Linked DNA regions of Homo sapiens. The protein of the gene in region 4 purifies or fractionates together with the protein of the main gene of each other region. This does not show direct contact. Each region holds a gene or a part of one and is shown on either strand. Other genes may lie near its edges. The genes, in order: OSTM1, SNX4, RPP30 and INTS2.

The links.
Region 1: the proteins of INTS2 (region 4) and OSTM1 purify together in Homo sapiens (co-immunoprecipitation; one large-scale study listed by IntAct). This does not show direct contact.
Region 2: the proteins of INTS2 (region 4) and SNX4 fractionate together in Homo sapiens (co-fractionation; one large-scale study listed by BioGRID). This does not show direct contact.
Region 3: the proteins of INTS2 (region 4) and RPP30 fractionate together in Homo sapiens (co-fractionation; one large-scale study listed by BioGRID). This does not show direct contact.

What each region holds. Positions count from the first base shown.
Region 1 is NC_000006.12:108,062,150-108,070,257, reverse strand, and holds part of OSTM1 (osteopetrosis-associated transmembrane protein 1 precursor), read left to right. Parts: intron 1-5,958; coding exon 5,959-6,073; intron 6,074-8,108. UniProt on the Homo sapiens protein: Required for osteoclast and melanocyte maturation and function.
Region 2 is NC_000003.12:125,449,022-125,457,129, reverse strand, and holds part of SNX4 (sorting nexin-4), read left to right. Parts: intron 1-3,174; coding exon 3,175-3,320; intron 3,321-5,710; coding exon 5,711-5,825; intron 5,826-8,108. UniProt on the Homo sapiens protein: Involved in the regulation of endocytosis and in several stages of intracellular trafficking. Plays a role in recycling endocytosed transferrin receptor and prevent its degradation.
Region 3 is NC_000010.11:90,895,730-90,903,696, forward strand, and holds the end of RPP30 (ribonuclease P protein subunit p30), read left to right. Parts: intron 1-150; coding exon 151-188; intron 189-583; coding exon 584-663; intron 664-4,840; coding exon 4,841-4,950; 3' UTR 4,951-6,462; downstream 6,463-7,967. UniProt on the Homo sapiens protein: Component of ribonuclease P, a ribonucleoprotein complex that generates mature tRNA molecules by cleaving their 5'-ends. Also a component of the MRP ribonuclease complex, which cleaves pre-rRNA sequences.
Region 4 is NC_000017.11:61,916,875-61,924,982, reverse strand, and holds part of INTS2 (integrator complex subunit 2), read left to right. Parts: coding exon 1-22; intron 23-3,155; coding exon 3,156-3,258; intron 3,259-5,469; coding exon 5,470-5,583; intron 5,584-8,108. UniProt on the Homo sapiens protein: Component of the integrator complex, a multiprotein complex that terminates RNA polymerase II (Pol II) transcription in the promoter-proximal region of genes.

The DNA.
Region 1 (8,108 bases), on a different chromosome or scaffold from region 4:
AGACCAGCCTAGCCAACATGGCAAAACCCCGTCTCTACTAAAAATATAAAAAATTAGCCAGGAGTAGTGGCATGTGCCTGTAATCCCAGCTACTCAGGAGGCTGAGGTGGGAGAATCACTTGAGCCTGGGAGGCTGAGGTTTCAGTGAACCAAGTTTGCACCACTGCACTCCAGCCTGGGTGACAGAGCAAGACTCCATCTCAAAAAAAGAAAAAAAAAATGACGGAACAGAGCAAGGCTGGTTCATCAGGGGAAACCTACAAGCTGAATCTCAAGGCATTCTTTCTACCCTTCTTTAGTGTGAATGGACATGGATTGATTGAGAGAGGAGAGGAGTATAATAAGGAGAAAAAAAGAATCAAAGCCAGAAACTAGTAAGCTATTTATGTGGTACAGCAATATAATTAGTTTAACTATAATAGAATTCCCTGATAAGAATCCTAGGTTCTTGTCACTTCCTTTTAGAATTTCTGGGAGAGGGATCGCATATAGTTTCATTATCTCAAGGTGAAAAATACAGTGATTTCTGAAACCTGAATGATAGAACTGAGGGATTCCCTCTTCCTTAGAGTCATACTTTCTCCTTTTAGTTTAAACTGATAGGGACATAGTTTCATTGTGATTCAGCATTATCGGAATGGTCCTGAGGATGCTTTTGCCCCCTCAGATTCTGAATTGGTAGGCTCTGTCCTATTCTACTTGGTTTGTTTAAAATTTAGATAGTGTTTAAAATTTAGATCTATAGATCCATCCATCTACCTATCTATCTCTATCTATCTATGTATCTGTGTATCTTTGTGAAGTGCTAGTCATTTGGGTTATGTATTTGGTGAGTATTCAATATACTTTTACTGTAGATTATTAAATAATGAATTCTGAGGACTATAGGGAGAAAGCCAGAACATAGTGTAATAATCTGTGTCTTTCATTAGAGATCAGAAAATGTAATATTTCTTCTGCATTCATTCAAAAAAATTATTGAGTACCTATTATGTACAGGTTGTGGTAGCTACTAGGGATATAGCATGAATGAGCAGAGCTTGTAGTCTGAAGACAGACATTAAGCATCTCATTATACAAATAATTATTTAATTCATGTGTGATAAGTGTTGCTGATTAAAAAACCCAGATGCTACCAATGCATATGACAAGAGTGCTGATCTTGAGTATGACTGGGGGGTAGGTAGAATGGTCAGTGATTAAAGCAGACACCTACAATTTGAGAGAACACAGGCAGGGGAGGGAAGGTATACATGTAAAGAAATAGCAGGCATGAAGACTGAGATGGGAAGGAGTTTGTGGTGTATCTGAGGTCTAGAACACAGCACAGTGAGCAAGAAGGAAACCCGTGGTCTGAGCCTAAGGAAGTACACAGGTGCCAGGTCATGTGGGCCTTGTAGGGTATGTTAAGGATTTTAGACTTTGATTTTAAAGCAGTATGACGTTAGTGAAAGGTTTAATTCTGTGGAATGACATAATCAGATTTGTACTTTAAAAGGCTATGCTGGCTATGTGACAGAAAATGGAGAGGGTAGGGGCTGGGGAGGGTAGGGGAAGAAGATATGTGGGGAGATGAATTAGGAGACTGTTGCAGTGGTGTGAGAGACAGTGGTGTCTAGGCTATGTGGGGGCCATCATGATGTGGAGAAATGGGTGGATTTCAGAGATACTTAGGAGGCAGAAATTACAGGCTTGGAGGTTAATTGAATGTGGGGAGTAAGGAAAAGGTAGTGATGATTTCCAGGGTTTTAATAAGAGCAGCTTAATGAATAGGGTTGTCATTTACTGAGCTGGAGGGAGGAGTCTGTTTAGTGGGCGAAGATCATTAACTCAGTTTTGAACGTGTTGATTTTGAGGTGTTTATGAGCTTTCTAAGTGGATATATTGATTGCCTATGTGGTTGAATATACACATCTAGAGGACTGGACTAGAGATAACACCTTTGGGAGTGTCGGCATAAAAATGGCATTTGAAATTATGACATGGGTGAACATACCTGAAGAATGAGTAGGAACACTAAGAGTTTAAGATTAAATAGAGGGTAAACTCTCAAAGGTGACTGAGAAGGAAGAATTGGAGAGATAAAGAAGAATGAGGAGAGCATGATGCCCTGTAAATCAAGGAAAAGGGAAGGGGTGGTTATTTGTGTCAAATCCTGCTGAGAGAATTGGAGATATATCTGTCAACACTGGCAGTATTGGTGACACTAACAAGAGTGAATTTGATGGAGTCCTTGGGTACGAAAGTGAGATCAGAGTGGGTTGAACAGGGATTGGAAGATGAGGACATGGGAAGAGTGAACCTAGACAACTGCTGAAGAGTTTGGCCTTGATGGGGAGATAAGAAAGAGAAGTCACTAAAGAGCAATGTGGGACTCAGAGACTTTCTTTCATTTCTCTTTCTCTATTTTTTTTTTTTTTTTTTTTTTTAGACAGAGGCTCGCTCTGTCAACCAAGCTGGAGTGCATGGCACAATCTCGGCTCACTGCAACCTCCACCATCCCAGGTTCAAGCGATTCTCCAGCCTCAGCCTCCTGAGTAGCTGGGACTATGGGTGTGCACCACCACACCCAGCTAATTTTATACTTTTAGTAGAGATGGGGTTTCACCAGGTTGGCTGGACTGGTCTCGAACTCCTGACCTTAGGTGATCTGCCTGCCTCGGCCTCCCAAAGTATTGGGATACAGGCGTGAGCCACGGTGCCAGGCTGACTTTCTATCATTTCTTTCCATTCCCCTGTCCCTCCATTCCTCTGTCCTGCCTTCCCTTCTTCCTTGTCCAAGATGGGAGAGAGCTGGACATGTTTAAATGTTGATAGTAAGGGTCCTTTAGAGAAAGTGAAGATTCTGTAGGAGGGAGTGGGAAGCAGACAAGGTCAGTTTCCAGAAAAGGCAGGATAGATGGGATCTAGGGCATCCTCAGAGAGATGGGCCTTGAAAAGGACAGGTGCCTTCCCCACCTTAATGGGAGGGTAGAAGGAGAGGTTGCATGTAGGGGTAGGCAGGTTAGAGTTTCAGCTCGAAGGCTTCTGTTATCCAGGAGGCTAGATCTTCTTTTGAGAGTAAAGAGTGGGAGAGAGATCAGAGTTTCTGGGAGAGTGGAGAGGATTTGAAATAGCGGTTGTAAAAAGGAGAGAATGAGCAGACAGAAAAGTGAGGAGTACGGTTTGGGATTATGGATTTACTTTGGAATTAATCTGTGTTGTTAATTTTTTGCCAGCAGCTCCTGACTTCCTGGGTGCAGGCATGATCAAAGGAAATGGCTGGCTTCAAGATGGTTAGGGTTCTGCTAAGTAGTTAGGATAGATTTGAGTATTAAGAGTTCTAAGTATAAGCAAGGACCATTGATTTTTTGGTCACTTGGCGAGGTGTTGGGAATACAAAGATGTGACAGTTTCCATTTTAAAGGGACATCTGTCCAGAAGAGAAACCTAAACATATATAGGTGGATATCATGCTTTAAGAAACCATGCATCAGGGTAATGACGCATGGGTCCCACATTGCTCTTTAGTGACCTCTCTTTCTTATCTCCCCATCAAGGCCAAACTCTTCAGCAGTTGTCTAGGTTCACTCTTCCCATGTCCTCATCTTCCATTCCCTGTTCAACCCACTCTGATCTCACTTTCACACTCAAGGACTCCATCAAATTCATTCTTGTTAGTGTCACCAATACTGCCAGTGTTGACAGATGTACCTCCAGTTCTCTCAGCAGGATTTGACACAAATAACCACCCCTTCCCTTTTCCTTGATTTACAGGACATCATGCTCTCCTTATTTTTCTTTATCTCTCCAATTCTTCCTTCTCAGTCACCTCTGATAGTTTACCCTCTACCCAGCTAACACTACCTATTTCATAGAGTTGTTATGAGGATTAAATAAGGAAGTTGGAACATTTGGAACTGGTAAGTAGTAAGTACCTCATCATCGTTTGGATTATTAATCATTTCCTTTCTGTCCTCACTGTTGCCATCATCCTTTCATTATACCTGATCTATGGAAGTAGTGTAATGAGTCTCCCTGCCTCCTCACCCTACATATCACGGCCTAAAGATGTATTCCTCAAACTGCTTTTCATGACACCCTCCTCATAAATCTTAAAGAATTTCTCACTGGCTAACTCTCATGACCCTCACGGCCTCTCATAACCTTGTTCTAACTTAGCCCTTTAATAGCCCTACTTTCATAGACTACTGAATACTCTCCGAATACCACATAATCATTATCACTTTCACCCCATGATCATTTAATTCTTCTATTTTCGAATCCTCTTCTCTTCCTCAATATAGGGCTTAGTTCATATCCTGCTTCCTTCATGAACTCTTTCCTAATTTCTCAAAACTACATTGATATCTTCCTGAACCGAACTGTTCCACACATTGAACACTCATACAGGCTCTACTGTATTGATTTTTAAAATAGCCAGTCACCCACTTATGAAGATTCAACTTAACCAACTAATGACACTTATCCAACTAAACCTACTTAGAGCACTTCAGGTTGGCAGCATGGTAGCTAGGTGAAATAGCATATATCAGTCACTGTGTGCCAGACAGTGTGCTGAGTGATTAATGTATGCTATTTCATTTAATACAGTAACTGTAGGACCCCTGATTTTGAAACTGAACCTTAGCGAGGTTGGGTCAGCTGCCCAAGGTCACTAGCTAGTGACCCAGGCTTGTATTAATACAATATTATTACTTCTACTTAAGAAGTGATAATAGGCCAGGCATGGTGGCTCATGCCTGTAATCCCAGCACTTTGGGAGGCCGAGGCAGGTGGATCGTCTGAGGTCAGGAGTTCGAGACCAGTCAGGCCAACATGGTGAAACCCCGTCTGTACTAAAAATAAAAATTAGCCAAGCATGGTGGCATGTGCCTGTAGTCCCAGCTGCTCGGGCGGCTAAGGCAGGAGGATCGCTTGAACCCAGGAGGCAGATGTTGCAGTGAGCTGAGATTGCGTCACTGCACTCCAGCCTGGGCGATAGAGTGAGACTCCATCTCAAAAAAAAAAAAAAAAAAGTGATAATAGAAAATTTTCTTCTATGGCTGGTATTGCTCAGAAGGTAATTCTAAAAAAGAGTTTTAAAATGTTCTGTTCATGGCCAGGTGCAGTGGCTCATGCCTATAATCCCAGCACTTTGGGAGGCCGAGGTGGATGGATCATTTGAGTTCAGGAGTTCAAGATCAGCCTGGCCAACATAGTGAAACCCCGTCTCTACTACAAACACAAAAATTAGCTGGGTGTGGTGGCATGTGCCTGTAGTCCCAGCTACCTGGGAGGCTGTGGCATGAGAATCGCTTGGATTTTATATTTTAAAGCAGAAATTCTTCCTTTTCTCCCTCTTTTCTCCTTTTTTCCATTTCTTCTCCCACATGACTGACCATTTGTTTCCCAGGAGTTACCACTCTTTTATTATTCATCACACTGTATAACTCCTTGTCTGTGTAACTGCGAGAGGTTCTCAAAGCCCCAGAATTGATGGCATTCTTTTATACTTTTTATATCCTCAGAACTTCAGGATTTTTATAGTGCCTAGTAAATAGTAGGAGTTAAATAACTTTGAAAGAATTAAGGGTCAGCAGGACTTAGTTCCTTGCTTGGGGCACGAAGGAAAGGAAATAGATAAGGATCAAATGATTTGGGAACTTGGATTTATTATTTGCATAGCATGAGTTTCTTTCATTATTAAAATGATCTACAAAAGCATATTTTTCCATCTGGGTACAAACTATTTAGATAACAAAGATTTTCTTCCTTTGCAAGTGAACCTAGTACCAATAAATGTTAGCTGCTAATTACTTTATTATCATTGTTTTTATTAATGTTAACATCTGATCATATCAAACAAAATGTTAAAAAGCTTATAATAAATGTTATTTTTGTAAGGTTTTTGCCTCAAGTTGTTTGCAAAGTCTGAAAATACTCAGATTGTATTTTTCTGTCTTCTTTTTGTTACAGAATACTTCAGAGAGTCAGAGTTGTGCCAGAAGTCTCTTAATGGCAGATAGAATGCAAATAGTTGTGATTCTCTCAGAATTTTTTAATACCACATGGCAGGAGGCAAATTGTGCAAGTAAGTAATTCTTTCATTTTCATGTTGCAGTTATGGTTCAGTAGTACAGATGTCAGATTTTATTTTAGTGAATTTTGGGATCTTTGAAGCTGGATAATACTTTTTATTGCTAAGTTTAAATAAACTGTCATGGACACCATGGTTTATTAATGGCAACTGAGCAAATAGCGAAAGGCAGAAAAGTGTAGCAGTTACTATGAGCTTTGGATTTAGATAGACTTGGGTTTGATTCTAAGCTCTGCCACTTACTAGCCCTAACCTACTAGCTGTCAGATATGGGAGAAAAACTTTGCCTCTTGGAAGTTCAGTTTCTTCATCTGTAAATTGGTGGTAATGATAGAACCTATCTTATATAGTCGCCTTGAGAATGAAATGAAATAAATTGTGTAAAGCACTTAGCTCAATGCCTGACACGTATTTAGTGTTCAAGAAATGTTAACTGTTTAGTATAATAATAATTATGATGTTTACAGTAATCTGTCAAGTGGTGTGTGGCAGGCGGCGGGGTGGGATGATGACATCTGTTCTACCTTCTTTGCAGGTTTGTGTGTAATTGTGTAATAAAATAAGATCTATTTTTAGATATTCTTTGGAAAAATTAAAATCACTTCCAATTCAGATGATGTTTTGAATACCAACTATGTGCTAGGCAGTTCTTATTTTTCAAGTCTTATAATTTAATGAGTGAGAAAGATATATTTACAAATACAGCCTAGGACAGACACATAAATGCTTTAATAAAGTTATAGAGTCCTTGGAGGAAGAAGAAAATAAATCTTACTGGGGAGAATTTGAAATGACTTCCTGGAGGAGCTACCTTTTGAACCTAGGCCTGTACTATTGGACATGATTTCAATAAGTAGAGATGACGCCAGTGAGGCGGCTCACGCCTGTAATCCCAGCACTTTGGGAAGCCAAGGCAGAATTGCTTGAGCCCAGGAGTTTGAGACCAGCCTGGGGAACATAGTGAGACCCCCATCTCTACAAAAATATATATTTTTTAAATTAGATGGACATGGTGGTGTGTGACTGTAGTCCTAGCCACTTGGGAGGCTAAGGCAGGAGGATCCCTTCAGCCCAGGAATTCAAGGATGCAGTGAGATATGATTGTGCCACTGCATTCCAGCCTGGGCAACAGAGCAAGACCCTGTCTTAAAAAAAAAAAAAAGTAGAAATGAGAGAAGGACATTGCAGGTAGTCACAGAGGTATAAAAGGGCAACAGATGTTCCAGGAAGCATAGTGGGAGGTAAAGTTAGCAAGGGAAAGTAGGACCTTGACTGACAGAGTAGTATACTATTTGGGCCAACATTTTTTATACTGCTTAGAATATCAGCATATTATTAAGAAGGGGTTATAGACCAGGCATGGTGGCTCACACCTGTAATCCCAGCACTTTGGGAGGCCAAGGTGGGAGAATTGTTTGAGCCTAGGAGTTCAAGACCAGCTTAGGCAACATGGCAAAACTTTGTCTCAACAAAAAATAAAAAATTAACTGGACTTGGTGGCATGTGCCTGTAGTCCCAGCAACTTGGGAGGCTGAGATGGGAGGTCAAGGCTGCAATGAATCATGGTTGTGCCACTGCTCCCCGCTCTGGGCAACAGAACGAGACCCTATCTACAACAACAATAACAAAAAAAAAAAAAAAAAGAAAAGAAAAGCTTATATAGTATTCTCCTATTATGATTATATAGTATTCTATTAGCCATGGTTTCACTTGCTGTAGTTTCAGTTACTGCAGTCAACTGCAGTCCAAAAATATTAAATGGAAAATTTCAGAAGTAAACCATTTATAATCTTAAATTGTGTATGATTCTGAGTAGCATAATGAAATCCCATGCCATCCTGCTTCATCTACTTGGGCTGCGAATCATCCATTTGTGCAGCATATCTATACTGTAGATGCTGCCCCTCCTGTGAGGCACTCAGGAGCATCTTGGTTATAAGGTCAACTGTCATGGTATGGCACTACTTGTGTTCAGGTAACCCTTAGTTTACTTACTAATTCTTTAATAATAGTAACATAATTATTAGTT
Region 2 (8,108 bases), on a different chromosome or scaffold from region 4:
AGGGGAATAATTTGTGAGTAACTTTATAATTCTTTTATTATTATCTTGATACAAAATGATGTAAGCCATTAAAACCATGTACTGTATAGAATTATAAGAAATTTTGCCAACATTTCTCTGGTGTAATCAGTATCATCCGGTTTCGTTTTAAAAAAAAAAAAAATTATTGGGCTGGGCACGGTGGCTCACACCTGTAATCCCAGCACTTTGGGAGGCCAAGGCCAGTGGATCACCTGAGGTCAGGAGTTCGAGATTAGCCTGGCCAACATGGTGAAACCCGATCTCTACTAGAAATACAAAAATTAGCCAGGTGTGGTGCCTCACGCCTGTAGTCCCAGCTACTCGGGAAGGTGAGGCAGAAGAATTGCTTGAACCAGGGAATCGGAGGTTGCAGTGACCCGAGGTCACGCCACTGCACTCCAGCCTGGGTGACAGAGCAAGACTCCATCTCAAAAAAATTGTTTTTATTAATTTTTATTTTTTGAGACAAGGTCTGGTTCTGTTTCCCAGGCTGGAGTGCAGTGGTATGATCAGGGCTCATGGAAGCCTCAAACTCCTGGGATCAAGTGGTCTTCCTGCCTCAGCCTCTTGAGTAGTTGGGACCACAGGCATGTGCCCCCATGCCTGGCTAATTTTGTTTATAGTCTCATCATGTTGACCAGGGTGGTCTCAAACTCCTGGACTCAAGTGATCCTCCCACCTCCGCCTCCCAAAGTGCTAGGATTACAGGGGTAAGCCACCATGCCTAGTCTATCATCTGGTTTCTAAGTCCAAGTGAAAAAACATGCAGTGACCTTTATCAGGTTTAACTTTGCAAGGTACTTTGCAGAAATTTTAGTTGACTTTGAAAAGCCTTACCCACTTAGAACCAGTGCATCTCGCCTAACAGGGAGCTTTTGATGTACTTTATTCTTTAATGCTTACAGTGAGTACTTGTGAGGAAAATTCTGTACCTGATTGCATTAGTCTTGGATCATTTTTATAATCAGCTTTCTACTCCAGTTATTTCATTGCAATAAATCAGCCATCATGGTGAGCAACACACATTCTGAAAGTAGTAAACCAGCAGCAATGTCTCTACTTAGTTAATAAGCACTGTAGTTTTTGTTTGTTTGTTTGTTTGTTTTTAGACCGAGTTTCGCTCTGTTGCCCAGGTTAGAGTGTGGCTCACTGCAAGCTCCACCTCCTGGGTTCACACCATTCTCCTGCCTCAGCCTCCTGAATAGCTGGGACTACAGGCGCCTGCCACCACGCCCGACCAATTTTTTTTTTGCACTTTTAGTACAGACGGGGTTTCACCATGTTAGCCAAGATGGTCTGAATCTCCTGACCTCGTGATCCGCCCGCCTCGGCCACCCAAAGTGCTGGGATTATAGGCATGAGCCAGCGCGCCTGGCCAAGCACTATAGTTTTAAAAGTGCTTTTCACAGAGATTACCCACTGGCTACATCTGTGAAAAGTCACAGATATATGTGGGGAAAGACTTGTGACCAGGACACATGTATAAACTAGGCCCTTGGTTTATTTTTAAAACTCAGTGGGAGAAGTTCCCAGGCCATTTTCAGGGAGCTTGGTTCTCTATCCTACATGTCAAGGGAAAAGTGTTTTCTTCAGTAAACTCCAGAGAGTGAGGAAATGTTAAAGCAGTGAAGCTTGGGGTTGCCTTCCCATGCTTGGATTTAGGTATCCTGTTTTATTAATAGATGCCCAAGTTTGAGCGTTGAGTTATGCAGATTTTAAATATGCTTCTTTAGTTTGGTTTATTTCCATAGTTGCCTAGTGAATTTATCGACTTTTTTTATAACATAAAGTAATTTTTAAAATATCATTCATACAGAGTAAGAAATAACGTCTAATATTTCACGTGGAAGTTTTCCATTTGATTATGAAATTCAAGCCGGGTATGGTAGCTTACAATGGCAATCCCGACACCTTTAGCAGCAGAGGCGTAAACCCAGAATTGCTTGAGCCCAGGAATTTGAGACCAGTGTGGATTAATATAGCTAGACCCTGTCTTTACCAAAAATTTAAAAATTAGCTGGGTGTGGTGGCATGCACCTGTGGTCCCAGCCACTTGGGAGGCAGAGGTGGGAGGATCACTTGAGCCCAGGAGGTTGAGGCTGCAGTGAGCCATGATTGTGCCATTACATTCTAGCCTGGGCAACAGAGCAAGACCCCATTTCAAAAAAAAAAAGAAATTCAGTTAGAAGTGTCTTCTTTTTGACTACTCCATATTATTTCAGTGTTAGAAATTCTATTAGGATTCTTGGCTATGACTCTGTAAAAATAAATAAAAACTCATATAAGAGATCCCTGGTTGTGAAGCTTATGGTGGTTTTGTCTGACTTAGGGGAAATATGGCAAATGTTTTCTATTTCCTTTGTGTGTGTAGTGAAATATATATAACATAAAATGTACCATCTTGTCCATTTTTAAGTATATAGTTCAGTAGTGCAGTCATCCCTCAGTATCTTCAGTGAGATTGGTTTAAGGATCCCTGGGATACCAAAATCCTCAGATGCTTAAGTCCCTTCTATAAAATGGTGTAGTATTTGCATGTAACCTGTGCATATCCTTTTGTATACTTTAAATCAGCAGTCGCCAACCTTTTTGGCACTAGGGACCTGTTTTGTGGAAGACAGTTTTTCCATGGACCAGGGCAGGGGGTGCTGAGGATGATTTCGGGATGAAACTGTTTCATTTCAGATCATCTCAGGCATTAGATTTTCACAAGGAACACACAACCTGGATCCCTCACATGCGCAGTTCACAATAGGGTTCGTGCTCCTAAGAGAATCTAATGCCTCTGCTGCTGATCTGACAGGAGGCAGAGCTCAGGTGGTCGCTTGCCTCCTGCTATGCAGCCTGGTTCCAAACAGGCCATGGACTGGTATCACTCCGTGGCTCTGGGGTTGGGGACCCCCTGCTTTAAATTATCTCTAGATTATTAATACCTAATACAGTGTAAACACTGGTGTCTCATATAAGTGGAATCATACAGTATTTGTCTTTTTGTATCTGTCTTATTTCACTTAGCATAATGTCCTGCAGGTTTATCCATGTTGTAGCATATATCAGATTTGATTCCTTTTAAAGGCTGAATAATGTTCCATTGTATGTGTATGTGTATGCCGCATTTTGTTTATCCATTCATCTGTTTCTGTTTCCTTTTAGACTGTGAGAACATTCTCTTTGAAGGGAATGACTACCAAGCTCTTTGGTCAAGAAACTCCAGAGCAGAGAGAAGCCAGAATAAAGGTGCTAGAAGAACAAATAAATGAAGGAGAACAACAGCTAAAGTCTAAAAATCTGGAAGGCAGGTAAAGATGCTGCGATGTTTAAGTAAGCTAGGCTTGTAGACTATATGGTAGATTATTTTATTTATTTATTTATTTATTTTGGTAACAATTCCCAGCTTCATTGGCATCCCTGAATACAGCCTATTCCTTTAAAATGCATTCCTAAGAAATTTGAGTTATCACGCTGGGTGTGGTGGCTCACGCCTGTAATCCTGACACTTTAGGAGGCTGAGGTGGGAGGATTGCTTGAGCCTGGGAGTTTGAGACCAGCCTGGGCAACGTAGGAAGACCCTGTCTCTACAGAAATAAATAAATAAATAAATAAATAAATAAAAATAAAAGAAAGTTGAATTATCAAAAATAATGTTATAGAAACAGTTGTTTCAATGTGGGGGAAAGAGAAATAAAAGTTTCAACTTCATAATATTATTTTCCTGCACTATTCCTGATTTCTACCCTTTGTACTTTCCCTCCACCATTTCTTCTCCCCTCCCCTCCTTCAGTACCCAGCTGAAGTGTTACTTCATTGTGAAGCCTTCTCAGGCTATCACGGCATTTAATTCATGCCAGTATGGTATGGCAGTTTTGTATTAGATGATTGATTGTTCTGTGTGACTATCCCTGGCTAAATTTAAGCCCTTCAAAGTCAGTGATTGTATCTTTTCCACATTCACATCCCAGTGCCTTACATAGGGCTTAGCATGTAATTGTTACATAAGTATTTCTAGAAATTCAGTTCTCAGAGACCCACTATCACTGTTTGACTCATTTTTCTTATTTTTGTTTTCATCTGACAGTCAGTGAATAGACCAAGGCAGACCAAGAGTGTATTTTGGGTTTTGAGGTGGTTTTGTTCATTTTTAGAACTACTAGCACCAAATATGGCAAAGTAATAGATAGAATTAAAAAAGACAGGCCGGGCGCGGTAGCTCATGCCTGTAATCCCAGCACTTTGGGAGGCTGAGGTGGGTGGATCATGAGGTCAGGAGTTTGAGACCATCCTGGCTAACATGCTGAAACCCTGTCTCTACTAAAAACCAAAAAAATTAGCCGAGCGCGGTGGCAGGCGCCTACAGTCCCAGCTACTCGGGAGGCTGAGGCAGGAGAATGGTGTGAACCTGGGAGGTGGAGCTTGCAGTGAGCGGAGATCACGCCACTGCACTCTAGCCTGGGCGACAGAGTGAAACTCTGTCTCCAAAAACAAATACCTCTCGGGATTTTAATTTTTATTATTATTTTTCATTTTTTTGAGACGGAGTCTCACCCTGCTGCCCAGGCCGGAGTGCAGTGGTGCCATTGTTGCTCGCTGCCACCTCAAAGTCCAGGGCTCAAGTGATCCTCCCATCTCAGCCTCCCGAATCACTGGGACTACCGGCTACCAAGCCTGGCTAAAAAAGTTTTTAAACTTTGGTTGTGATTTAAAACAAGTACATGCAGCTGGCCGTGGTGGCTCACACCTGTAATCCTAGCACTTTGGGAGGCCTAGGAGAGTGGATTGCCTGAGGTCGGAAGTTCAAGACCAGCCTGGCCAACATGGTGAAACCTTGTCTCTACTAAAAATACAAAAAATTAGCCGAGTGCAGTGGCGTGTGCCTGTAATCCCAGCTACTCTGGAGACTGAGGCAAGAACCCTGGATGTGGAGGTTGTGGTGAGCCAAGATCACGCCTCTGCACTCCAGCCTGGGCTACAGAGCGAGACTTGGTCTCAAAAAAAAAAAAATGCTAAACGTGATTCATAATCCATCTTGTCAAAAGAGTGTATATTTTCCAGTGACCCCTGGAAGGCACTTACTTCATTGTGACTGACACCTGTTAGGTTTGTGAGCTGGCTTAAGGAGTCATCTATGTGTATTTTATAGGAATAATTTAAAGGTAGAATCCTTGTGGCAAAAACTTAGATTATTAGGCCAGGTGCAGCGGCTCACGCTGTAATCCCAGCAGTTTGGGAGGCTGAGGTGGGCAGATCACCTGAGCTCAGGTGTTCAAGCCCAGCCTGGCCAACATGGTGAAACCCTGTCTCTACTAAAAATACAAAAATTAGTTGGGCGTAGTGGCGTGTGCCTGTAATCCCAGCTACTCAGGAGGCTAAGGCAGGAGAATTGCTCAAACCCGGAATGCAGAGGCTGCAGTGAGCCAAGATCACGCCACTACACTCCAGCCTGGGCAACAGAGTGAGACTCTGTCTCAAAAAAAAAAGAAAAAGTAGATTAAAAGGTACAAGAATATATGACTGTCTGTTTGCTTTTTCCCTAACTATAATTTTTAGGAAAATAAAAAAACTGTCTTATACAAGCAATAACTCTTCCTTCTACATAGGCAATTAAAAACCAACGCCAATGAGAACTGGTTAACTTTTTAGTACACAGTTTATTTAACTTAAATAATAATAATGGCTATACCTTTTATTTCAGAGAATTTGTGAAAAACGCATGGGCTGATATTGAACGCTTCAAAGAACAAAAGAACCGAGACTTAAAGGAGGCCCTCATAAGCTATGCAGTCATGCAGATCAGTATGTGCAAAAAGGTAGGGTTTTTCCTGTTTCAGTGAAGATATATGTATATTCAGAAGTGCTTATACATGTATTTAAATTACCTGACCAAAAAATTTTTCATTTTTATTCTTCTCTTGTAGAATGTTTACCAATTTCTCTATTTTAATTTTGTAGGATTTCTGTTTTATTTTGTTTTGGTTTTTTTATTTTAAAATTTTAAATATTTAAAAAATAGATATGGGGGGGTCTCGCTATGTTGCCCAGGCTGGTCTCGAACTCCTGGCCTCATATAGTCCTCCTGCCTCGGCCTCCCAAAGTGCTGCAATTACAGGTGCGAGCCACCATGTCCAGCCTCTACTGGTGTTACAACCAGTATGCCCATTACTGAGTCTCCACTCATCTAAAGTCCAAATTTGTATCTCCATTTATAACTTGTATTTGAGAATATATACCAAGATTATTTAGATCATATGGTACTCTTGGACCAGACAGTAAAATACCATTCCAGGTATATGCTTTGATTGGAAAATAGCTTGAACATTATTTCGTGAAGACCTGGTTATGATATGCTTCCTCATAAAGTAAATCATTTGTGTTGCTGATATCCATAGTGAAAGATACAAACATTGAAGCTTATTCTAGTTAAAATAAATGTTTGACAATGATGGAAGACTTTCTAAAACGTTGGTTTAAGAACAAAATAGGAAACATTCCTTAACCTCTTTTTTATAACCTAAGATCTGCCAGTGTGACTACCAGTACCAGTGCTTTGATTTGTATCACCTGTCATAATTTATCAAGCACTTTTACATGCATTATCTCAGTAAATTACATGGTAAGATGAATTCTCACATTTATAGGGCAAAATCACACTCATATAAATATATATACAATTCTTATGCTTTAGTTTGTCCCAAAATTTTATTTTTTGGCTGTGGGCCATCACTGAGAGAACAAAGATATTTTGAGGCATAAACACCATACGCACTCACTGGTTAAGTGGGCTCCATTTGGTTTGGACAAATTCATATTTATGCTCAGTGAATTATAAGTTACTGTATACCGTGGATCTTTGGAGTCACTTAAAACAAGTTTAGATCGTGACTGTTGAGTCTGCAGGTGCTAAAGGTTGAGTATGTTGTAGTTTGGTAGCATCTCTATCTTTTTTTTGCCTTCATTCTGTCACCTCTTCTTGCCTGCAGCTAGGTGCTAGATATTTACAATCCATTGTCTTTTTCTTTTTTCTTCTTTTTTTGTTGAAATGGGGTCTTACTGTGTCACCCAGGCTGATCTTAAACTCCTGGGCTCAAGCAGTCCTCCCGCCCTGGCCTCCCAAATTGCTGGGATTATAGGCATGAGCCACCACACCCAGTAGTACAGTCCTTTTTCCAATCTAACTTTTTAACCTCAAGAAATCTGAAAGACCAGATAACAAAGGTTTTTAGTTTTTTTGTTTTTCCTGTAAAAGACTCATTAATAAGCTCCTTGTGATCTCTCATTCACTTCTTTCCAAAGTAAAGTGCAAGACCTTTATATAATGTCTCAAAGGACTTTCCCCCTCCGTTTTGTTTAGGCTGCAGTGGTTGAGGGTGCTAGAAATTTAATCTGTGAATATAAAAGATACTACTATAGCTGTATTTGGACATACTGTTGGATATTTTGTAGGTTTATTCACAAATCCTTAGATAACTAGTAAAACAAAAAGTTTAATAAGAGTTTATGTTCACCTTGTTTCCCAAGAATGGTACTATGCAATTTTGTCGTTTTGTTTTCTTGCCTAAGTGATATAGATTTTTATATGTGATCCTAGCTATTTGGGAGGTTGAGGCAGGAGGATCACTTGATCCCAGGAGTTCAAGACTAGGCTGGGCAACATAGTGAGACCTTCTTTCTTTCTTTCTTTCTTTTTTTTTTTTTTGAGACAGAGTCTCACCCTGTCACCCAGGCTGGAGTGCAATGGCATGATCTCAGCTCACTACAACCTCCGCCTCCCGTGTTCAAGCAATTCTACCTCATCCAGCCGAGTAGATGGGATTACAGGTGTGTGTCACCATGCCTGACTAATTTTTTTGTATCTTTAGGAGAGACGGTTTCACCATGTTGGCCAGGCTGGTCTCAAACTCCTGATCTCATGATCCGCCTGCCTCCACCTCCCAAAGTGCTGGGATTACGGGTGTGAGCCACCGCACCTGGCCCGAGACCTTCTTTCAAAAAGAAAAGAGAAGAAAAAGAAAATTGTTCAAAACCTTAATAAATGACACACTTTAATGATTAAGTATTAAAAAGTTCCTTTCTCATAAATGAGTAATTATTGG
Region 3 (7,967 bases), on a different chromosome or scaffold from region 4:
AAAAGCTATGAAACCCATCAAAATTATAAGGACTTAAATTTATGTAATTTTTTTATTTTTGGATACTTAAATTTTCTATTAATTTGCTATAAGTCATTGAAATGTTATAAATAATTTTCTCATATCTACTCTTTGTTCATTTTATTTCAGCCTTTAGAAATAAGAGGGCCATATGACGTGGCAAATCTGTATCCTTTTCTGAGTAAAAAGTTGTTGACATTGTCTTTCAGGAAATTTTGAATTTGAAGTCGTATTATAGTTGAACATGTATTTTTCTCAACCTTTTACTGTAAGTTTACCAATTAATAACTTCAAAAATAAATTATATAACATTATAGAGAGCTTTATGCTTCTGTTTTTTAATTAATCATGAGATAGAAAAGAGGGAATGAGGGACTTCATATGATAAAAGCTTAGAGTTAAATGAGTCTTTTCTCAGATGCATGTTCCAGTTGGACTAAGAACTGCTGTTGAATTAATTAGCCTCTCAAGATGACCAGGTTAGCTGGCACTTTCTGTTATGTTTGTGTTAGTCTCGTGTCCTTGGGTGACTCTGGGTTGAAATCTTTAATGCTCCCCCAAGAGGCTTGCTGTTTGGGCTCTCTGAAAGTGACGCCAAGGCTGCGGTGTCCACCAACTGCCGAGCAGCGCTTCTCCATGGAGGTAAGCAAGTTCTTCCAGTACAAACTGAATGGTCATGTTAAAAGCAAGTCATTTTTACAGCCATACCTATTTTTATTGCCCTACCCTACAGAGTTCCTTTGGGATCATCTTTTCTCAACCTGTTCTAAACACAGTCATCAGTGTTTTCTCACCCTCACTTCAGGCTTTACTTTCTAAAGTTTGTAGAATGAATATAGTTTTCATTACAGAAATAAGTATTGAATAGTTCTTCCAGCTATACATGTGTGCTCCTGCCGACATTTTGATAGGCTTCTAATCTCCCTTCCTTCTTCTCCCTCACCAGAAGGCCATGCTTTCCCTGTTGAAAATCTCTGTTTTAGAGAACGGATATGTTAAAAATATGTGTTAAACTATTTATTAGGAAAACAAAACCAGCAAATACATTTTTAAAAATCCAACTAACAAAACATAGACTGTAACTTTTACATTTATTATAACTCAGAATGTTTCTTTTCTCATGTTTGCTTACATGGTCAAGTTGTGTCCAGACTGTACCTTTTTTATTTTTTTTTCTTTTTCTAAATAGAGACAGAGTCTCACTATGTTGCCCAGGCTGGTCTTGAACTCCTGGGCTCAAGCAATCCTCCTACCTCAGCCTCCCAAAGTGCTAGGATTACAGACATGAGCCACCATGCCCGGCCAGACTGTACATTTTTTACTCACATTTTGTATATGTACCTTTTCACTGACTGAGTTTCCTGCTCATCAGATGTTAAAAATTGAAAGTATGCTGAAACTTTGGAAAATGAAAGTGAAATTTTATTAAAACAATTTAAGCTTTTGATCACTGTTTTGTCTTCGTTATCTTTATAATTCTTAGGACTAGTTGTAGTGGTTAAGAAGCAATTTCATTGATATCACCCAAGTGAATTTTAAACTTCAAAGTAGATTGCTACATATAGACTGAGTTATTTGTCATATGAATAGCTAGGTTATTGAGGGCTTGTGTGTTGGGCTTTATTGATCTGATTTCCACTTGAGAGAACTGCTTATGTATTGGCTTGCCGTAAATTAGATGATTTTGCTTTTAGTTTCAACATTTTTAGTTTGAGATTTTTGTATTATGTAGCCTAGAACTCATCACATAAGCTTTGGGAGTGGTCAAATTAATGGAGATTTTGAATAATGATTTTCTTGAAATTAGGGAACAGTTGGTTCACACTTTGATAGTTCTGTCATTATTTTGATCTATTTTAAATAAACATTCATCAGGATTTTGAGTAACAGTTGGGGTTCCAAAATGGACTAAACAAGAAACAGAAACTAAAATATAAATACATACATAATTTTATATATAGGAAAATAGGAAGTCCTGCATTTGACTTTAAGAACTCAGCTATTCAGCATATAACACATAATATGTAAAGTATTTTTTTTTAGAATTTCTTTTTGTGGGTACATAGTATGTGTATATATTTATGGGGTACTGAGATATTTTGATATAGGCATGCAATGCATAATAATTACATCATGGAAAATGGGGTGTCCATCCCCTCAAGCATATGTCTTGTGTTATAAACAATCCAATTATGCTTTTTTAGTTATTTTTAAATATACAATTAAATTGTATTGACTATGGTCACCCTCTTGTGCTATCATATACTAGACCTTGTTCATTCTATTTTTTTTGTACCCATTAACCATCTTCACCTCCCTCTCAGCCCCCCACTACCCTTCCCAGCCTCTGGTAACCATCCTTCTACTTTCTGTCTCCAGGAGTTCAGTTGCTTTGATTTTTAGATCCCACAAACAAGTGAGAACATGTGATGTTTGTCTTTCTGTGTCTAAAATCAGGCTTTTATAGAAGCTAAACTTAAAGAAGACTTGTGAACTTTGGGTGGCATTACCATTCACCCCAGTGTACCCAGGACAGTTCTAGTTTATGCCTGCTGTTTCTGTGACCTTATTAGCACTTCTATTCCCTGAAGAGAGTCCTAAACTAGATGATAAAATATGGTTACCCTGGTTTTCGTTGCCATTGGGATCAGTATGAGACGGTAGTATGATGTGTTCTTAAGATTGCTAATTCAGCCTAGGTAATATTAGAAGAAATAAAGGATTCTGAGACAAGGAAATTCAAAGCCTCGTTATTATACTCTCATTGATGAAATCTCAGCCGGCATCTGTATCATTCTGAGTGCCACATTTAAGAAGGACAGCAGTGCACTGAAACACTATTGGAAAATGTCTACTCAGTCCTTAAAGGGTCTGGAAGCCTCATGATGAGAGGAATCACGAGGGTGGTGCAGACATGGATACCTGGCAAGCAGAAGAGTTGGGACACATGGTAGTTAGCTTTCAACTTGGAAGGCTTGCCACAGGAAATCAGAATTAGGTTCTTTGGGGGTCCAGAAATCTAGAAACCAATGAATAGCAATTCTGAGGAGGTTGTGGGGAAAGGACAGAGGAAAGAGGCCCAAGGTCAGGGTCTTTGGCCTGTGATTGATAAAGTTCATGCCCTCAATCAGCCCCTGGACCAAAATGAACCTGTTGGGGACACCTGCCTTAGCCCCTTGTGAACAAAATTATTCACTCGTAGATAATCCTTTAGATTTTCCTTGGCAAGATGATTAAAGGAAATACTATATGTGAAAACATTTTATAAACTAAAGCATACACAAATGTAACGTCTTGCTGTTACCAAGAAATGCATTTATTTTTAAAAGACACTAAAGAAATTAATGCATTTTGTTAAAAAGTGCTGATTTTCATAATGTTTATATTTCAGTTGATTTTTAGACTATGGGTACAGAATCAGTGACATAAATTAATAGCTATAAGTGTGACGTTTTTCATTTGGTGAAATGGAAATCATTGACAGTTTTTATTTTGAGGTTCTTATTATGTTGGCATTTTAATGACCTTGAGAGCAGTTTTATCCCTTTTACAAATAAAAGTGTTTTAAAATAATTGGCAGAGTAGATTTACTAAGTTAATCTTGATAAATGGGAAAATAATGCTTAACACTTTATGGTTGACTTTACGTTTATTACTTGAAATAAGGAATAATTCATAGCTAAATTTCTGTTCAAGTTCTTTTGATTCTGCCACCTTTGTAGCTAATGGGTATCTCTCTCTTTCTCCATAATCCCTTTCCATTTCTAAGGACAGAGTTTGGGTCTGTTTTCATGACACTATGGCCTTTCATAAGTTACCCTTCCAAACTCTATTTTCTCCTAATTTTTTTGTATTCCTACTTCACATCAGCCATATTGTCCCCTAAACTATTTTACCTAGGTTCTTCTTATCTTTCTCTCCATGCCTTTGTAAAGGAATATTTCTCTTTTTCTTACTCCGTTTACCCTATTCTGAGTAGTGTCACCTTTATATAATACCTCATTGCTTTAACCAGGCAGTTAATTCTTGTGGATGCCTCCATTCCTATTATATTTGCTCTTATTGTGCTTCTCGCATGCATGTAGTATAGGGAAAAGCACTGTCTGTTAGGAATCTTAATACCCTCTGTATGGACACAGTGCCTAGCCTATTAGTAGGTTTCTAGGAAAAATTGGTTAAATTTAAGTTGAACTCTGCTGCCAGCCTAATCTAAGCATTTAATAATTTCTATTTATTCTTTGTTCATTGTCACCAGTTAAAGAGATCAATAAATTTATGAGTGATTTTATTCATTAACTCAACTAGTATTTACTGAACACATTTTGCATAACCAGGCCATTGTTGAGTGTTGGCAATATAATGCAATTGATTCTTCAGAGGTACCTTGATGTTCTAATAAGAGAGATAGGGTACATGCTGTAAAATGAGGCAAGCATGTGCTCCACATGGGAGCCATACACTTGATTGCTGTGTTTGCTCTCTTGATTTGTCTGTCTACCATATATAAAGTGTCTGCTACATCAATGTCTGTGACTGGGTTCTGGCTACATAAGATGCCATGGACAGACCATTAGAGATAACACTGTCCTGCAGTTTTACCCATGAGGTAATCTTTAGGAATGAATTAGATGTTAATAATATACTGATATTTGTGTCTGTTGGGAAAAAAAGATAATGACGGTAAATGGCACTAGCAGCCATAGCAGTTCATTATGGCTTATCATTTGCTATTGCTGTAAGCCAAAGTAATATGTTAAACCACCTCATTTTAAATTATGTCTTAACTTCAAGCACAGTGGTTTCCCTGTTTGTTTTACAGAAACTAGAAAAACTGCTTTTGGAATTATCTCTACAGTGAAGAAACCTCGGCCATCAGAAGGAGATGAAGATTGTCTTCCAGCTTCCAAGAAAGCCAAGTGTGAGGGCTGAAAAGAATGCCCCAGTCTCTGTCAGCACTCCCTTCTTCCCTTTTATAGTTCATCAGCCACAACAAAAATAAAACCTTTGTGTGATTTACTGTTTTCATTTGGAGCTAGAAATCAATAGTCTATAAAAACAGTTTTACTTGCAATCCATTAAAACAACAAACGAAACCTAGTGAAGCATCTTTTTAAAAGGCTGCCAGCTTAATGAATTTAGATGTACTTTAAGAGAGAAAGACTGGTTATTTCTCCTTTGTGTAAGTGATAAACAACAGCAAATATACTTGAATAAAATGTTTCAGGTATTTTTGTTTCATTTTGTTTTTGAGATAGGGTCTTTGTTGCTCAGGCTGGAGTACAGTGGCATAATCACAGCTCACTGCAACCTCAATCCTGGGCTCAAGTGATCCTCCCGCTTCAGCCTCTCAAGCAGCGGGAACTACAGGTGTGCACTACCACACCTGGCTATTTTTTTTTTTTTTTTTTTTTTCCCTTGTAGAGACATGGTCTCACTATGTTGCTGAGGCTGGTCTCAAACTCCTAGGATCAAGCCATCCTCCCGCTTTGGCCTCCTAAAGTGCTGGGATTACATGAGCCACCACATGCAGCCAGATGTTTGAATATTTTAAGAGCTTCTTTCGAAAGTTTCTTGTTCATACTCAAATAGTAGTTATTTTGAAGATATTCAAACTTATATTGAAGAAGTGACTTTAGTTCCTCTTGTTTTAAGCTTCTTTCATGTATTCAAATCAGCATTTTTTTCTAAGAAATTGCTATAGAATTTGTGGAAGGAGAGAGGATACACATGTAAAATTACATCTGGTCTCTTCCTTCACTGCTTCATGCCTACGTAAGGTCTTTGAAATAGGATTCCTTACTTTTAGTTAGAAACCCCTAAAACGCTAATATTGATTTTCCTGATAGCTGTATTAAAAATAGCAAAGCATCGGACTGAACCAACTTTGGAAATAATTTATTTTTATAATGGGATCATGTTAAGTAGAAGTAGCTTTTTATGCAAATACATGCATTTATGCAATATTAATGTAAGGGCTCTAAAACAATGGAGTAGAGCCAGAGGTATAACTGAATAAGAAATTTTTTTAAGCAAGAGAAAGACAACTGTTCTGCGGGTTGGAGAAAATACAATTTTTTTTTTTTTTTTTGAGACAGTCTCGCTCTGTCCCCCAGGCTGGAGTGCAGTGGCTCGATCTCTGCTCACTGCAAGCTCCGCCTCCTGGGTTCATGCCATTCTCCTGCCTCAGCCTCCTGAGTAGCTGGGACTACAGGCGCTCGCCATGTATTTAGCAGAGACGGGGTTTCACCGTGTTAGCCAGGATGGTCTCAATCTCCTGACCTCATATTCCACCCGCCTCGGCCTCCCAAAGTGCTGGGATTACAGGCGTTAGCCACTGCGCCCGGCCCGAGAAAATACAGTTTTAAAAAGAGAAAGCTTTATAACCTCACCAATGAATACAAATGTTTAAATAAAATATTGATTAAAAAAACATTAAAAGTGCATCATGACCAGGTGAAATTTATTCTTTTTTTCTTCTTCTTTTTGAGACAGGGTCTCACTCTGTCACCCAGGCTGGAGTGCAGTGGCACAATCTCGGCTCACTGCAACCTTTGCCTCTTGGGCTCAAGCCATCCTCCCACCTCAGCCTCCCAAGTAAGTGGGACCAGAAGCATGCACCACCACATCCCAGCTAATTTTTGTATTTTTTTGTAGAGATGGGGTTTTGCCATGTCCAGGCTAGTCTCAAACTCCTGGCAGATTCAAGCAGTCTGTCCGCCTCAGCATCCCAAAGTGCTGGGATTACAGGCACAGGCATGAGCCACCATACCCGGCCTTCCAGTTCTTTTTAATGCAGTATCCTTTATCATATTCATAGGTCAAAAGAGAAAAATCAGAATATTTTTAATAGATGCCAGAAAGACATTTAATAAAGTTAAATCCACTCCTGATTTTTAAAATGACAACAATAAAAACCCATGGCAAAATTAAAGTAGAATAATATTGTATGCATACATATATATGTTCATATGTGTCTGTTTTTTGTGTATATTAAATGTGATGGCTCCAAAAGCATTTTTGACTACCGCTTGGCCAATTTGATGGATTAACCTACTCATTCCTTCTGTAAAACTGAGGCTGGTGCTGCTGAGGCCACACACCAAAAGTCTGCCACTTCCTTGTGTGCCAGTTTGCTTTTTTCCTTCACCCTGCTTAAGTTCACCAAAAGTCAGCTGTGTTTATTCACAAATCTGTTTAAGGCAGCTGTGTTTAGCATTGTATGTAAATTATTTTTTTAAATATGAAAATTGATGAGCTATTGGGGGCAAATGAAAAATTCCCGGGAAAACTAAGTCAACACTTTGGAAAGGTTTGGAAAAGAGTCATTACAAAGAACTGCTGTCAAATTAGATATGAGAAGGATAACAAATTTGGGGGTGATCAGTAAAAACTCTGCACTTGGATTGCTTCACTAATGTCAAGTTCCTTTTCTGCTTTAAAGGAACTAGAATTCAACAAAGACAACTTTTGATCTCTCATCAGAGAGATCATACTCCCAAGAACAGGCTTTGACCCTTCTTTAAAAGGTTGGTACCCAAGTATACATTTATCTATTTTAAGCTTAAAATGCTTAACAGGATGTATGTTCAATTTTTTGCGACGTCCCACCTTAATTTATGAATTAGTGATGTACCAGCTACAGTTGCACCAGATACAGTAAGATTTTCATGTTATAGAAAGGAGGTAAAATTATTTGCAGATACGACTGTCTTGGAAAACTCGTGAAATAAATGGGAAAAAAGTAGAAATACAGGTACCTTTCAGCTTACGTCCATTTACTACACATTTGTGTAGTATGTGTTTGCAGTTGTGCGTGCTTTCTATTCATACATGTTTATGCCATTGTTCATGATAGTAGGGCATGATGGCTGATCACCAGTGAATAGCAGAGGCAAGTTTCCTTCTAATATTTACTTTCGTTAGAATGAACCACTAATTTAATTGCT
Region 4 (8,108 bases):
ACTGTTGGCAATTATGAACAAGGTGCATTTCTTTTAACCACAGCTCAAAGTATGCATGATTTGATGTCTATGTATAGGGAGGTAGACAGAAAAAGAGACAAGAAGTCAGGCAGGTTGAATTCTCCTCTACTCTTATTTTGTTCTTTTTTTTTGGAGACGGAGTTTCATTCTTATTGCCCAAGCTGGAATGCAGTGGTGTGATCTCAGCTCACTGTAATCTCTGTCTCCCAGATTCAAACGGTTCTCCTGCCTCAGCTTCATGAGTAGCTGGGATTACAGGTGCCCGCCACCACGCCCAGCTAATTTTTTGTATTTTTAGTAGAAATGGGGTTTCACCATGTTGACCAGGCTGGCCAGGCTGGTCTCGAACTCCTGAACTCAGGTGATCCACCCGCCTCAGCCTCCCAAAGTGTTGGGATTACAGGCATGGGTCACCGTGCCCGGCCTTCTCTACTTTTATTTCTATATATTTGTTTTCCTTTCAAAGCCTGAAAGGATATTATAAGTCTGCCTTAAAGTCCTTCTCTTAATTATCATTTTCTCTCATTTATACTTGTTCTGCATTTTCTATGAGAGGGATTTTTTTCCGTATGGAATCCATACACAGTGGCTTCTTGACATTTAGAAAGGGATTTATCTCAAGGCTTGTACAGATTATCAAATTTATTAGCAGATAATACCTTTATGGGATACAATTTCTCCCATAAAGTGTAATGAAGTAACATTTTCAATAACTGAATGTGAATAACTGAAAAATGTATGTGATTCATTTAGACACTGGATGAGCAGTAACAGCCTCATATATGACAGCAGAGGGGAGTATCAATGCTGAATTGAATGTAGGATGATTGGCTAGTCTCAATCACTAAATGACCAAAGTGCTTCTTTACACTAATGAAAGCTATTCAAGTTATCTTCTTTGTAAAATTATAGATTACTTAGGTCATAGACCTTTGGGTAATATAGTTAATTGAAACTCTGAATTTAAAATTTTTGAATGTCAAAGTTCTATCATATAAATAACTAAATTAGCTGGGCGTGGTGGTGCACGCCTGTAATCCCAGCACTTTGGGAGGCCGAGGTGGGCGGATCACCTGAGGTTGGGAGTTCAAGACCAGCCTGACCAACATGGAGAAACCCCGTTTCTACTAAAAAATACAAAATTAGCCAGGAGTGGTGGTGCATGCCTGTAAAAGAATTGCTTGAACCTGGGAGGTGGAGGTTGTGGTGAGCCGAGATTGTGCCATTGCACTCCAGCCTAGGCAACAAGAGTAAAACTGCCTCAAAAACAACAACCACCACCACCACAAAAACCCACTAAATTAGATCTTTATGTTTATTTACTGTTATAATTTTGGGGAGTCAGTTAATTTATAGTAAATAAAGTTTAGTTTTATAAATTGTGGACAAAAAGAGAAAGGACTAAATTCTGTTTTCATAGAAAATACTGGTAGAGAGGATTTTGGTGAGTTTTAGATAGTTTTTTTTTTTTTTTTTTTTTTTTTGGAGACAGAGTCTCACTCTGTCGCCCAGGCTGGAGTGCAGTGGCACAATCTCGGCTCACTGCAAGCTCCGCCTCCCGGGTTCACACCATTCTCCTGTCTCAGCCTCCCGAGTAGCTGGGACTACAGGTGCCCGCCACCATGCCTGGCTAATCTTTTGTATTTTTAGTAGAGACGGGGTTTCACCGTGTTAGCCAGGATGGTCTCGATCTCCTGATCTCGTGATCCGCCCTCCTTGGCCTCCCAAAGTGCTGGGATTACAGGCACGAGCCACTGCGCCCGGCCGAGTTTTAGACAGTTTTTAAGGTATGTTAAAAAATTTTTCTAAAATTTCCATCACCAATTATAATTTCCTTCTCTTTTTTACTATTTTGATACTTTTATTTATTTTTGTTTGTTTTTTTGAGACAGAGTTTCGCTCTTGTTGCCCAGGTTGGAGTGCAATGGTGTGATCTTGCTCACTGCAACCTTTGCCTCCTGGGTTAAAGCGATTCTCCTGCCTCAGCCTCCTGAGTAGCTAGAATTACAGGCACCCGCCACCATGCCTGCTAATTTTTGTATTTTTAGTAGAGACGGGGTTTCACCATGTTAGCCAGGCTGGTCTCGAACTCCTGACCTCAGGTGATCCTCCCACCTCGGCCTCCCAAAGTTCTGAGATTACAGGCATGAGCCACCATGCCCAGCCTATTTTGATACTTTTAAATTTCAGCCAAGAGTTTTCCTTCATCTTTTCCGTAATACCTCACTTGGTGACTCTAATAAATAAGTGACCTTTCTCCTCTGGGAGATTTCCAATTTTTTAGTTTGGCACTCTTCATTATATAGGAAATATGGTTATGAAACTATTGTGCAGAATTTCCAAAAAGCTTAGTAGATTTTGTTATCTAAACTTTAATTCTTTGTTTTTCCAACAGTTTATTCAGAATTGAACACGTATATATATATATATATATATATATATATATATATGTTTGTTTGTTTTCTTTTTTCTTTTTCTTTTTTTTTTTTTTTTTGAGACGGAGTCTCATTCTGTCTCCCAGTGTGGAGTGCAGTGGTGCTATCTCGGCTCACTGCAGCCTCCACCTCCCGGGTTCAAGCGATTCTCCTGCCTCAGCCTCCTGAGTAGCTAAGATTACAGATGGCCACCATGCTTGGCTAATTTTTATATTTTTAGTAGAGACAGGGTTTCACCATGTTGGCCAGGCTGGTCTCGAACTCCTGACCTCAGTTGATCCACCCATCTTGGCCTTCCAAAGTGCTGGGATTACAGGCGTCAGCCACTGCACCTGGCCATGAATTTATATTTGTTAAACTGCTTTAGGTTGACTGTTCTTGGCTTTTTTAAAGCAGTTTATGTAGGCTGCATTTGTAGTTCATTTCTTTGGCTTGCCTTATCCTTTAATTCCAGTTGTCTCCAAATATTTAGATAGAAATCAGTTCTTGAGATTGATACTGCTATATCTGAATAATAATTAACATGACTGCTGTGTGTGGTTAAATTGGTTGAAATTGATTGAATACTGCATATTCTGCTGTGGTATATTAGTGATACATTAAGAGACATAATCTGTGAGCTCAAGAAATAATTATAAAAATAGGGATTTAATTATCTGAAATTAATAGAGTTTATATCTTTTTTTTTTCTTTTTTAAGGTGTCTGAGTCCAACGGAGAATTTTTTTTCAAGTCTTCTGAACTTTTTGAGAGTCCAGTATATTTGGAGGAAGCTGCAGATGTACTTTGTATTTTACAAGCAGGTACTGTACTGAGTGCTAAGATGGATTTCATATATAGTTTCTTGTTAAATGATACTGTGTAACTTCTTAGCCTGGTATGCTGTGTTATTTTAGGGATCATATAACAAACATGTTATGTGATTTTAAGTCAAAAGTGACTAATAGTTGGACAATGATTAAGTAAATTATATTATTTTCATAGTGTGACATATTATGCAGACATTAACATGGTATCTTTGATTTAATGACTTTAATGCTCGTTAATGATTTTGGAAAATGTTTACAATATGTTAAGTGAAAAAAGCAAAGGGCAAAGTGTTAAGTAGACTATAATCCCAGTTTTGTTAAAAGTTCAAGAACAATACCCTTGATGAATTAAAATAAAATACTTATTTTTTTTTAGAGACAGAGTCTTGCTCTGTTGCTCAGGCTGGAGTACAGTGGCAGGATCATAGCCCACTGGCTTGAATTCCTGGACTCAAGGGATCCTCCCACTTCAGCCTTCTGAGTAGCTGGGACTACAGGCCTGTGAAAACATTTTTTATTAACTTTGAATTCTGGGATTAGGGCAGATTTTAATTTTCTTCTTCGTACCTTTTTGTATTTTCCAGATTGTATATAATAGGTGTGAATGATAGAAATAAAAGAGGACAGAAAAATGTAAAGAAGGCTGTCGCTCATGCCTGTAATCCCAGCACTTTGGGAGGCCGAGGCAGGAGGATCACTTGAGCTCAAGAGTTCAAGACCAGTCTGGGCAACATAGTGAGACCTTGTCTCTACCAAAATGAAAAAAATTAGCCTAGTGTGGTGGTGTATACCTGTAGTCCCAGCTGCATGGGAAGCTGAGGCAGGAGGATGGCTTGAGCCTGGGAGATTGAGGCTGTAGTGAGCCATGATTGTGCCATTGCACTCTGTCCAGAGTGAGACCTTGTCTTTTTTTTTTGAGATGGAGTCTCACTCTGTCACCCAGGCTGGAGTGCAGTGGTGTGATCTCGGCTCACTGCAACCTCCGCCTCCGGGGTTCAAGTGATTCTCCTTCCTTAGCCTCCTGAGTAGCTGGGATTACAGGCATGCGGCACCATGCCCAGCTAATTTTGTATTTTTAGTGGCGACGAGGTTTCACCATGTTGGCCAGGCTGGTCTCGAATTCTTAACCTTGTGATCTGCCTGCCTCAGCTTCCCAAAATGCTGGGATTATAGGCATAAGCCACTGTGCCTGGCTGCAGACCTTTTCTTAAAAAAAAAAAAAAAAAAAAAAAGTATAGGCCAGGCACGGTGGCTCACGCCTGTAATCCCAGCATTTTGGGAGGCCGAGGTGGGTGGATCACCTGAGGTCAGGAGTTGGAGACCAGCCAGGTCAACATGGTGAAACCCTGTCTCTACTAAAAATACAAAAATTAGCCTGGTGTGGTGGCAGGCTTCTGTAATCCCAGGTATTCGGGCGGCTGAGGCAGGAGAATCGCTTGAACTCTGGAGGCGGAGGTTGCGGTGAGCTGAGATTGCGCCATTGCATTCCAGCCTGGGGGACAAAAGCGAGACTTCGTCGCAAAAAAAAAAAAAAAAAAGCAAATAAGATTTTCGTGAAAATAACTCTTTAGACCAGTTCTATAAAATAAAATTTCCTGTACTGTTCTATGCTATGCTGTCCAGTGTTCTTTGTGGCTGTGGATTACTTGAAATGTGGCTAGTGTGATTGAGGAACTGAACTGTTTTTAATATAAGTATCCTTATGTTGCTAGTGGGTATCCTACTGGACAGCTTGGTTCTAGACTATGAAAAGAAAGTACTTTATTTTAGATGACATTTGTGAAATGTCAAAAGATATTTAATAATACAATGAAATGTCATTTTTGGTTGGGCATGGTGGCTCATGCCTGTAATTCTAGGAGTTTAGGAGGCTGAGGCAGGAGGATTGCTTGAGCCCAGGAGGTTGAGGCTGCAGTGAGCTATAATCACACCACTGCACTGTAGCCTGGGCAACAAAGCAAGACCCTGTCTTAAAGAAGAAAAAAAGAAATATCACTCTTTAACACTGGGTCCAGGCATGGTGGCTTATGCCTGTAATCTTAGCACTTTGGGAGGCTGAGGCTGGAGGATCACTTGAGGCCAAAGTTTGAGACCCACCTGGGCAACACAGTGAGATTCAGTCTCCACAGAAAATAAAAAAAATTAGCTGGGTGTGGTGGAGTGCACCTGTTAACAAAGACTAACACTGACTTTGTTTTCTTGTAGAGCTCCCTTCCTTGCTCCCTATAGTTGATGTAGCTGAAGCTTTGCTACATGTTAGAAATGGTGCCTGGTTCTTGTGTCTCTTGGTGGCCAATGTTCCTGATAGTTTTAATGAAGGTAAATATGATTCTAATATGGTATATTGAAAAGACTTGCTTGGACATGTACAGGACCTATCTTTTTGACCTAAGAAGAAACATTAATGGGATTTTATTTGAGATTTTATCTTTTGAAAGTTTGTTAGTATGTATAAAGAAATATTGAGTTCACAAATTGTATTGAGTTTAAAGATCAGGCTGGGCGCAGTGGCTCACACCTGTAATCCCAGCACTTTGGGAGGCCGAGGCGGGCAGATCACAAGGTCAGAAGTTTGAGACCAGCCTGGCCACTATGGTGAAACCCCATCTCTACTAAAAATACAAAAATTAGCTGGATGTGGTGGTGGGTGCCTGTAGTCCCAGCTACTGGGGAGGCTGAGGCAGAAGAATCGCTTGAACCTGGGAGGTGGAGGTTGCAGTGAGTCGAGATCGCACCACTGCACTCCGGCCTGGGCGACAGGGCGAGACTCCGTCTCAAAAAAAAAAAAAAAAAAACCCCAAGGAACTAGAAGATGTAATATCTATAATCAGGGATCAAAGAAGATACATGTATCAGTGAAATATCAAGAGAGCAATACGGGATATGTATAATGAGAAATGCTAGGAATCAGACCTTTGTTTTTTAGCCCTACTGCTGTCAGTTTACAGAGAAGTATAAAGTAGAAATTGAGAAAAATCGACTACATTTTTTCACCTCTATTTAAAACTTACAGTGATTGAAGGTTGTTGTTTGGGTATGAGTGATATAAAAATAAAAACATTTTGTTGAGCAAGGTAGTTTGTGAATTAGGAGCCTGGGAGGAAAAAGTACTGGAGTTATAATTCCTGATTTTGTCATTCACTTATTGTGTGAGCTCTATCAAAATACTTCTCATCTGGCTGGGCACGGTGGCTCATGCCTGTAATCCCAGCACTTGGGGAGGCCGAGGTGGGTGCATCATTTCAGGCCAGGAGTTTGAGACCAGCCTGGCCAACATAGTGAAACCCCGTCTCTACTAAAAATACAAAAATTAGCTGGGCTTGGTGGTGGATGCCTGTAATCTCAGCTACTCAGGAGGCTGAGACAGGAGAATTGCTTCAATCTGTGAGGTGGAGGTTGCAGCGAGCCGATATGTGCCACTGCACTCCAGCCTGGGCAACAGAGTGAGACTCTGTCTTAAACAAACAAACAAACCAAAATACTTCTCATCTGTAAAATGGAGATATTGATAGTGTAATAGTTCCCTGACTTTTTTAAGAGATTTATTGAATATCAGATGATATGTAAAAACTCTTTGTAAACTGTGTCCTTGCCGATTTTTTGTCAACTTGTTCTGTCAATTACTGAGAGAGGAGTTTTGATGTCTCCAGACATAATTGTGGATTTGCCTATTTCTTCTTTTTGTTCTGTCAGTTTTTGCTTCATGTATTTCAAAGCTCTTTTGTTGGGTTTATATGCATTTAGGATGATTATATCTTTATGATGAATTGAGCCTTTTTTTCATTATAAAATATACTTTTTTCCCCAAGTCAAATTTGATTTCTTTATTCTTAGTTTTCACATTTATAGTTATATCCCCCTTTCTAAACATTATTTACATATTATTCAATTTGTTGTCACCTTTGTTTTAATTTTTCTTTTTAAAAAAATTCGAAGTTTTATTTTAGATTCAGGGGGGTACATGTGCAGGTTTGTTACATGGGTATATTGTATGACACTGAGGTTTGGAGTTTGAATGATCCCGTCACCCAGGTTATGAGCATAGTACCCAATAGGTAGTTTCTCAGCCCTTGTCCCCTTTCTTCCTCCCCACTGGTAGTCCCAGTGTCCATTGTTCCCATCTTTATGTCCATGTGTACCCAATGTTTAACTCCCACTTATAGTGAGAACATGTGGTATTTGGTTTTCTGTTTCTGTGTTAATTTGCCTAGGATGGGATGGCTTCCAGCTTTATCCTTGTTGCGGCAAAGGACATGATTTCATTCTTTTTAATGGCTGCATAGTATTTCATGGTATATATGTACATTTTATTTAATCCACTGTTGATGGGCACCAAGGTTGATTCCATGTCTTTGCTATTGTGAATAGTATTGGGATGAACATACAAGCGCATGTGTCTTTGGTAGAACAATTTGTTGTCCTTTGAGTATATATCCAGCAGTGAGACTGCTGGGTCGAATGGTAGTTCTGTTTTAAGTTCTTTGAGAAATCTCCAAACTGCTTTCCACAGTGGCTGAACTAATTTACATTCCCACCAACAATGTGTAAGTGTTCTCTTTTCTCCACAGCCTCGCTAGCACCTATTATTTTTTGACTTTTTAATAGCCATTCTCACTGGTGTGAGATGGCATTTCATGATTGTTTTGATTTGTGTTTCTCTGATGATTAGTGATATGGAGCATTTTTTTTCATGTTTTTTGGTTGCTTATATGTCTTCTTTTGAGAAGTATCTGTTCGTGTTCTTTCCTCACTTTTAATGGGGTGGTTTTTTGCTTGTTGAATTGTTTATGTCCTTATAGATTCTGCACATTAGGCCTTTGTCAGATACATTTTTGTCAATATTT